2 linked regions of the Homo sapiens genome follow. The gene in region 1 interacts genetically with each later gene. Each region holds a gene or a part of one and is shown on either strand. Other genes may lie near its edges.

Region 1 (4,523 bases):
TCTCATACGTTTCTCTAGAAACTGTGACCAACCAGTTGGAGTGAGCCTAATGAGAGAAACAGCTGCAGCTGAGCAGTGCCAGAGGTGGACTACAGGGCTCCCTATCCTGATCCCATTTACCAGAAAGATACCCCCATCCCCAAGCTAGTGTAAGTAGGACAGCCAGCAGCTCCCTTTGTTCACCTGCACACTTCTCCAGATAGTTGTCCTCAGCTTACAGGAGCCACCTCATCTGGAGGATTCCGCCCTCTTCGCATCCTCTTCCTCTCCCACAGGGTGGGCCATAGCTAGTGGTAACTGATGTAGGATTGTAAAGTTCCAACGACCTTACCTCTCAGAAAGATGGGTCTGTAATACCATTCACACTCTAGAGCTTCCTGTGGGGTCAAATGACAATAAAATCCTTTTGGGCTTAGCCTCTTCTACAATCCTATTCTGTTTCCGACATTTCCTTACTGATTTCTCCTGAGAGCATTTTCTTATAAAAGTCACTTGTGCAAACATCCTGTTTTAGATCTTTCTTTGGTGCCTCCAACTTAGCAGCATGGCTCAGGGTGAAACCTTTTTCAATATAGCCTTTTTTAGGATGAGAATCACCAACACGGTGGTTGTGTCCTATCCCTCAGATAAAACGATGTGAAGAAAAAAACAATCAAAGACAACTAGTTTAAAAGCAAACATGCATATTGAAATAAAAACTTTAAAAATTAAAATTCTTAAAAGAAGACCAAAAAAGTAAATGAACAAATAATAGAAAAAAATTGTAATGCGCAAAAATTGAAAAGAAAAAAAACAGCAAAATGTTCAGAGGTGTCCATTCAGGTGACAGTAAACTCAAGAGTTGATCAAAATCTATGGTAACCATTCATATTGTACAAAAACATTTTGAAGGACACTAATACTGAGATTAGGAATGCTGCTGTTTTAGATTGTGTGCTCTCTGGGGCAAACCCACAAAAGAGGATCTGAGAACATGTGGTATATTTGGACGATTAACCCAAGAAACACTGGAGGAAACTTGAAGAATGACCCTGGGAAGGAGGGAAAGTCATTATAGAGTGAGTTCATGATCAGAATGTTCCTGCAGGCATCTGGTATAAATCCCGCTGAAGACCTCTGGAAGACTGGTTTGACATACCCCCCACTGGAGGGAAACAAGCCAGGGCATATATTACCAACTCCCACTCATTCTCTGAGTGCTGTTCCTAGAGGCTTTAAGTCTCCAGCCCAGAGTTTGCTCCTTTATCCAGAGAAAGTCCTCAGGTAGAGAGTTCCAGGTGCCTGCTCTAAGGAACCATTTTCCTATGTTTGAATGGAGAGTGCTGATAGGATAGAGGTGGAGCCCCTGATATCATCTGCTGTGGTCTTCTCCCTCTGCAGGGAAGAACATCAGAAAATTTGACAGGTAAGGATGAGAATTCAAGAAGGAAAAATGAGACACAATGCCCGTATATTATTTGTATGCCTCAAAAATTAAAATTTATTTAAGATAGAGGAATAGCTCCATGTGATAAATTATGGTAGAGAGCAAATATTTCAATTCAGGGAACATGGGGTTGACATATTTCAGAGAAAATTCAAACTTGTATTCATTTGGTAGAGGGTAGCAACATAGTGTTTGGTGAGCATATTTGGAGGCCAAACTCAATCCAAGAATTGGTTGGAACTGAGGTTGTCCAATTGGCCTTGCATGATTCAGTTCACAGGTGGATCATATCAAGAATGCTGGTTAATAAAGGCAGGTGAGTATAGGTGAGGGCATCAGCAGCAAGAGCCACTAGAGCAGGTTGGGCGGCAGCAGGTGGACACACAGCAGCTGGGGCGGTAGCAGGTGGTCCTGCAGCAGGTGGTCTGGCCACAGCTGGGGCGGCAGCAGGTGGGCTGGCAGTACACAGACTGGCAGCACTGGGGTCTGAAGCAGCTGGACACACAGCAGCTGGGACGGCAGCAGGTGGTCCTGCAGCAAGTGGTCTGGCAGCAGCTGGGGCTGCAGCAGGTGGGCTGGCAGCACACAGACTGGCAGCACTGCGGTCTGCAGCAGCTGGACACACAGCAGCTGGGGCGGCAGCAGGTGGTCCTGCAGCAGGTGGTCTGGCAGCAGCTGGGACGGCAGCAGTTCTCTAGGCCACAGCCCTGGTCAGAGCACACAGAGCCACAACAGGAGTTGACCATGGTGTCAGAGGGTGGAGGTTCTGGGTGGATTTCCAGGAAGGTGGGTTTGGAAGGTTTGGAAGTTTCCTTGCCCCAGATCCTCTTTTATACCCTGCTAAGGCCTGATGTCATCAGATGCAACACTCTTTCCTTGTTATTATTTGTCCTGATATGTAGGCAATTATCAAATTAGGCAAGTTTGTTGTTCTGGTTAACTTATCCACATAGATGGAAACACTGTCTCCTTTCCCTAATGTGTTAGGACTCCTTAGCTCAGCTCTTCCTGAACCACCTCCTGTGTCTCTCTTACTATAGCTTCCTCCTAGAGCAGCCATGTGACATCTGCCTGTAAGCACATACTATGTGCTTCAGTCTCATTTGCTTAACACATCATGACTACTCTTGGGTGATTACTATTCTTACAGGCCCTTGACTCTTTCTGGTGACTCAGGAGGATAAAGCTGCATTTCAGTCTGATGGCTCCTTCATTATGGGTCAGATGGCCTGTGAAGGTTTCAGTGTGAAACAGATTTCAGTGTGAAACAGATGACCACTGGTGTGAGAACGAGAACACCGTAGGACCTATCGCTTTTTTATCTTCCGCACTCTGAATTGTGACCCATTTTCTAGACCTTCTGATGAGAAATACAGAGCTGTTTTAAGGTGGAAAACTAAGCTGTGAAAGTTTGATGTTTCCTTTTCTACAGAAACAACCCTCCAAAATTCAGATTCAGGGCCTCTTGGGGAATGTTGGCTTCAGAGAACAGCTATACTTAAAGGTCCAAGTCCCTCATTTTTTTGCTCCCTGGGGCAGATTTTCCTTGTGACTTTGCCTTTCTGCCTTCCTAGCTCTAACAGGGCACATGAGCTCATCTCTCCAGGTTCCAAAATTTTCTGGCCAACCCAAATTAGATGACTCAGTATCCTTTGCTTGCTCTAATTCGCTCCCAGCCCTCTTGCTTTCTCTGCTGAATTGCTGGGCCTTGAAGATGTCCTATACTCTGCTGCTTCCTTATAGAAGTTGTTGATCCAATTTCACACTTTACATCTTTGTTTTCAAAAAATAAATCAATAAAGAGAGAAAGAAAGCAGAAAACAGGTATCAAGAACAAAGGATATCAGCCTATATTTTTTCATGTAGGGATGGCTGACTATTGTTTCAAAAATGTGCTATGTTGTCAATTCATTAACTCATCAGTTAATAAATATATATGTATTTCCCCACCCCTGAGGAGTCAAGGAACCCAGGGAAGGGGGTGGAAAAATGTCTGACTTACCATGATAGAAATGTTTTATGAACTGGGCAGCCTCTGCAGATAATCAGGGGAGGAGTTTCAGTGTAAGCTGGTGTTTCTGAGGGAGATCCAAGAACCAGATGGAGGGGATTGGATGAATGAGGGAGATTCCCTTTCTTCTCTCAGGTGCTTATAAGTCTAATAAATCAAATTGTGGTGTTCTTATGATGCTGCTATGTTCCAAGCCAGTTCCTACTCCTGCCCTGGCCCTAATTTCCAGGTGATTCAAGCAGAATGAAAACAACTTGGGCTCCCAAGTGAACCCCTGCTTGGTGCGCTGGCTGGTGTTCTGAGCCTGCACTGTTCTCTGGCTCTGATGTACCCAGACATCATATTTTATTGAGGGATGAAAGTGGGTTCCATGATGCTGTGGAATTAAGACCCTGTGAGCCCCATGGTGGTGTACGAGAACAACTCTAAGATTTCCAGGAGACCTTGTATTCTGGAAAAGAATCGTGCCCTTGAGAAGCCGTGACGATTGGTGCCTGCTGATGATTCAGTAGAGATCACTTTATATTAACTATTTTTCTTCATGATGTGAGTGTGTGTGAGTGTGTGTGTGTGTGTGTGTGTTTTCCTTAAGATAAATTTACATTATATTTAGGAATCTCTCACGATTTCTTCTAGTACTTTAACAATTTCATTTTTTCTACCTCTACTCAGCTATAATTGAAATATAAAATTGTATGTATATAAGGTGTACACCCTGATGCTCTGATATGTATATATTGTGAAATTATTGTCATGATCAAATTAGTTCACCTCCACCACTTCACATAGTTACCATTTTTTGAGTGTGTGTAGTGAGAACATTTTAGATCTAGTCTTTCAGCAAATTTTAAATATACAATACAGTGTAATTAACTACAGTGACCATGCTGTACATTAGATCCTCAGAACCTATTCTTCTTATAAATGAATATTTTCTCCCTTTGACCAACATTTCCTCATTTCCTCCATCCACAACCTTTGACAATCACCATTCTACCCTCTGTTTCTATGAGTTTTTAGATTCCACATGTAAATGAGATTATTTGTCTTTCATTGTCTGACCTACTTCACTTAGCATAATGTCCT
Region 2 (2,628 bases), on another chromosome or scaffold:
TCCTGGGCTGCGGGTAGCTTGCGGGCTGCGGGTTGGACAAGCTTGCTTTACATGATAGCCCAAACTAGATATTTTGAAATATTAAAAATTGTTCTCAATCTATAATAATTTTAAGTATTTAAATTTGTATTAAAGTGAGCATATTGTAACTAAATCAAGCATGTTCCTAGCATGACTTTATTTACAGATAGAGTTGACCCTTGAACAGTGTGGGGGTTAGAGGCGCTGATCTGATTTGCAGTCGAAAGTCTGTGTATAACTTTTGATCCCCTAAAAACTTAACTGCTAATAGCCTGCTGTTGACCAGAAACCTTTCCGATAACATAATTAATTAATACATATTTTGTATGCTCTTATATGTATTATATACTGTATTCTTACAATAAGCTGGAAAAGTGTTATTAAGAAAATAAGGAAGAGAAAATAATATTTACTATTCATTAAGTGAAAGTGGATCATCATAAAGGTCTTCATCCTCATGATCTTCATGTCTAGTAGGCCGAGAAGGAAGAAGAGTAGGAGTTGGTCTTGCTGTCTCAGGGGTGTCAGATGCAGAAAACAACCTACAAATGAGTGGACTTGCCAGTTCAAGCCCATGTTGTTCAAGGGTCAACTATAGTTATAATTCTATAAAAGACTAAACCTCCTGGAGTATTTGAGTTTTCCCAAAACTCCTATCTACCAATCTATCTGCATTTTTTATGGATAATCTGCGTTTTAGCTTACCTTATCAATATTTTCTTTAAACTTATTGATAGTACTGAATCTCTTAATTACTATTAACTTTGTTGATGTTTTCTATTGTTTCTACTTCCTTTTACTTTGGTATGTAGCAAGCTGCTCTCCAGGGAAGTATCTCTGAAACAAAACTCACTTAACTCCCACATTTATTTCAGGCAGGAGTTGGCAAACTATGATCTGTCCAAATCCAGCCTGCAGCTTGTTTATGTATAGCCAGCACACTAAAAATGATTTTTACATTTTAAATGGTTGGAAAAAAATTAAAAGGAGAATAATATTTCATGACATTTGAAAATTATATGAAATCCAGATTTCATTGTCCATAAACAGGTTTTATTTGAATACAGCTCATCAGTTATTTATACATTATCCATAACTATTTTTGCTACAGTGGTACAGGTGAGCAGTTGCAACAAGATACTCAAAGGTTAACATTCTTGCTTTCTGACTCTTTCTTTACAGGAAAAAAAAAAATTACTGACCCTTGCACTGTAAGATCAAGATTAAGAAGAGCAGCTTTTGCTTAGTACTTTACAATATTTTAAGACTTCATTGTGTATTTTTATTATAGATTGAGTTAAAGGAAAGACTGATGGGAAAAATGGATGAGTCCCTAAATCAAATTTTCATGGTGTGACCTGATTATCATTTGAAATTATTTTCTATAATATTGCCAAGCAAATTGTAAGACCAACTTTAGGAAGTTATGTTTTCTGCTGTTACAGATTATTAACCTGTTTTCTTTCCACACAGTCAAATTCAGTGTAAAGTCTTTGGATGTGTAGTCTGAGTTTGTTGTGTTTCTCAGCTTTGAGACTAAAAGTATTAGATAATTAGTCAAGCTAATTAGAAAGTATCTTCTGGTGTCTCTCTTTAGGAAAAAATATCTACAGTCTGTTAGGTAAATAGCTTAGGAAATAAAAGCCATCAAAATCATCTGGGAAACTTATTTAAAATATGTATTTCTTAGCCTGAATACCCCCTCCCATTTCTGATTATACCAAGAAAGGAAAGGGAGGCAGATTATATATTTTGAAAATGCCTCTGTTAGTTAACAAGAGAAATGTCTCATAAATTGTGTATCTTTTTCTAAATGTCAGAATAAATGATATACTTAAATATGTATTAGGGTGATAGTCTTAAACTTAAAATATCATTTAAATGAGAAAGTGATTTCTAATACAAAGCCTCAACTTACTAAGTTAATTGAGATTATTTTAAAGTTTCTCCAAAATGCATCCTCCAAATAAAAATATAATTTCTGACAGTGAATCACAGGTAACCAGTTTGACATGACAGATTTCATTTTATCACTCTAAAATATATTTCCTCAGTGGATGAAATGAAAATTTTATAGCTCTATAGGGAAAAGTAGATGTGAATATTAATATAACATCTTATGTAAATATACACTGTTTGAGATTGATAACTAATTTAATTCCTTATATTTTGACTATTTTCCAATTAAAGTTTACATAACATTTTAAATCCCAATGTATCCTTTTTAAAGATATATTTATTCGTGGGTCATATAAATTAGATGTCATTGTCCACAAGAATTATTTGGTGGGTAGTCAGTTTTCTATCAAACTGAATTTTATCACACTGTGAAAAGAATGTATCAAATAGAGACAGATCCATCAGTGCTTGATTTTCTTTTGAACTGGAGCATTATATCTGTATTATGTACTTAGAATTTTATATTCAGTAGTTTAGTTTGATTTAATAGCCAACTAATATGGCAAATCTGGGTGATTAAAAAAAGCAAAAATTAAAGCACATATTGAATGACTTTATAGGCTATAAAAGTAAAACTCATCTTTTGTTGAATTTTTAGAGGAAGAAGAGAAAAATAGAAAGTGTTCTCCTGAAGAAATTCAGAGAAAA

Evidence for each region. Genes that interact genetically often act in the same process or in processes that back each other up.
Region 2: changes in KRTAP4-2 (region 1) and ETAA1 are lethal when combined (synthetic lethality), as found in Homo sapiens cells (one large-scale study listed by BioGRID).

Annotation. Positions count from the first base shown.
Region 1 is NC_000017.11:41,175,993-41,180,515, forward strand, and holds KRTAP4-2 (keratin-associated protein 4-2), read right to left. Parts: upstream 2,230-4,523; 5' UTR 2,173-2,229; coding exon 1,762-2,172; 3' UTR 1,454-1,761; downstream 1-1,453. UniProt on the Homo sapiens protein: In the hair cortex, hair keratin intermediate filaments are embedded in an interfilamentous matrix, consisting of hair keratin-associated proteins (KRTAP), which are essential for the formation of a rigid and resistant hair shaft through their extensive disulfide bond cross-linking with abundant cysteine residues of hair keratins.
Region 2 is NC_000002.12:67,407,333-67,409,960, forward strand, and holds part of ETAA1 (ewing's tumor-associated antigen 1), read left to right. Parts: intron 1-2,578; coding exon 2,579-2,628. UniProt on the Homo sapiens protein: Replication stress response protein that accumulates at DNA damage sites and promotes replication fork progression and integrity.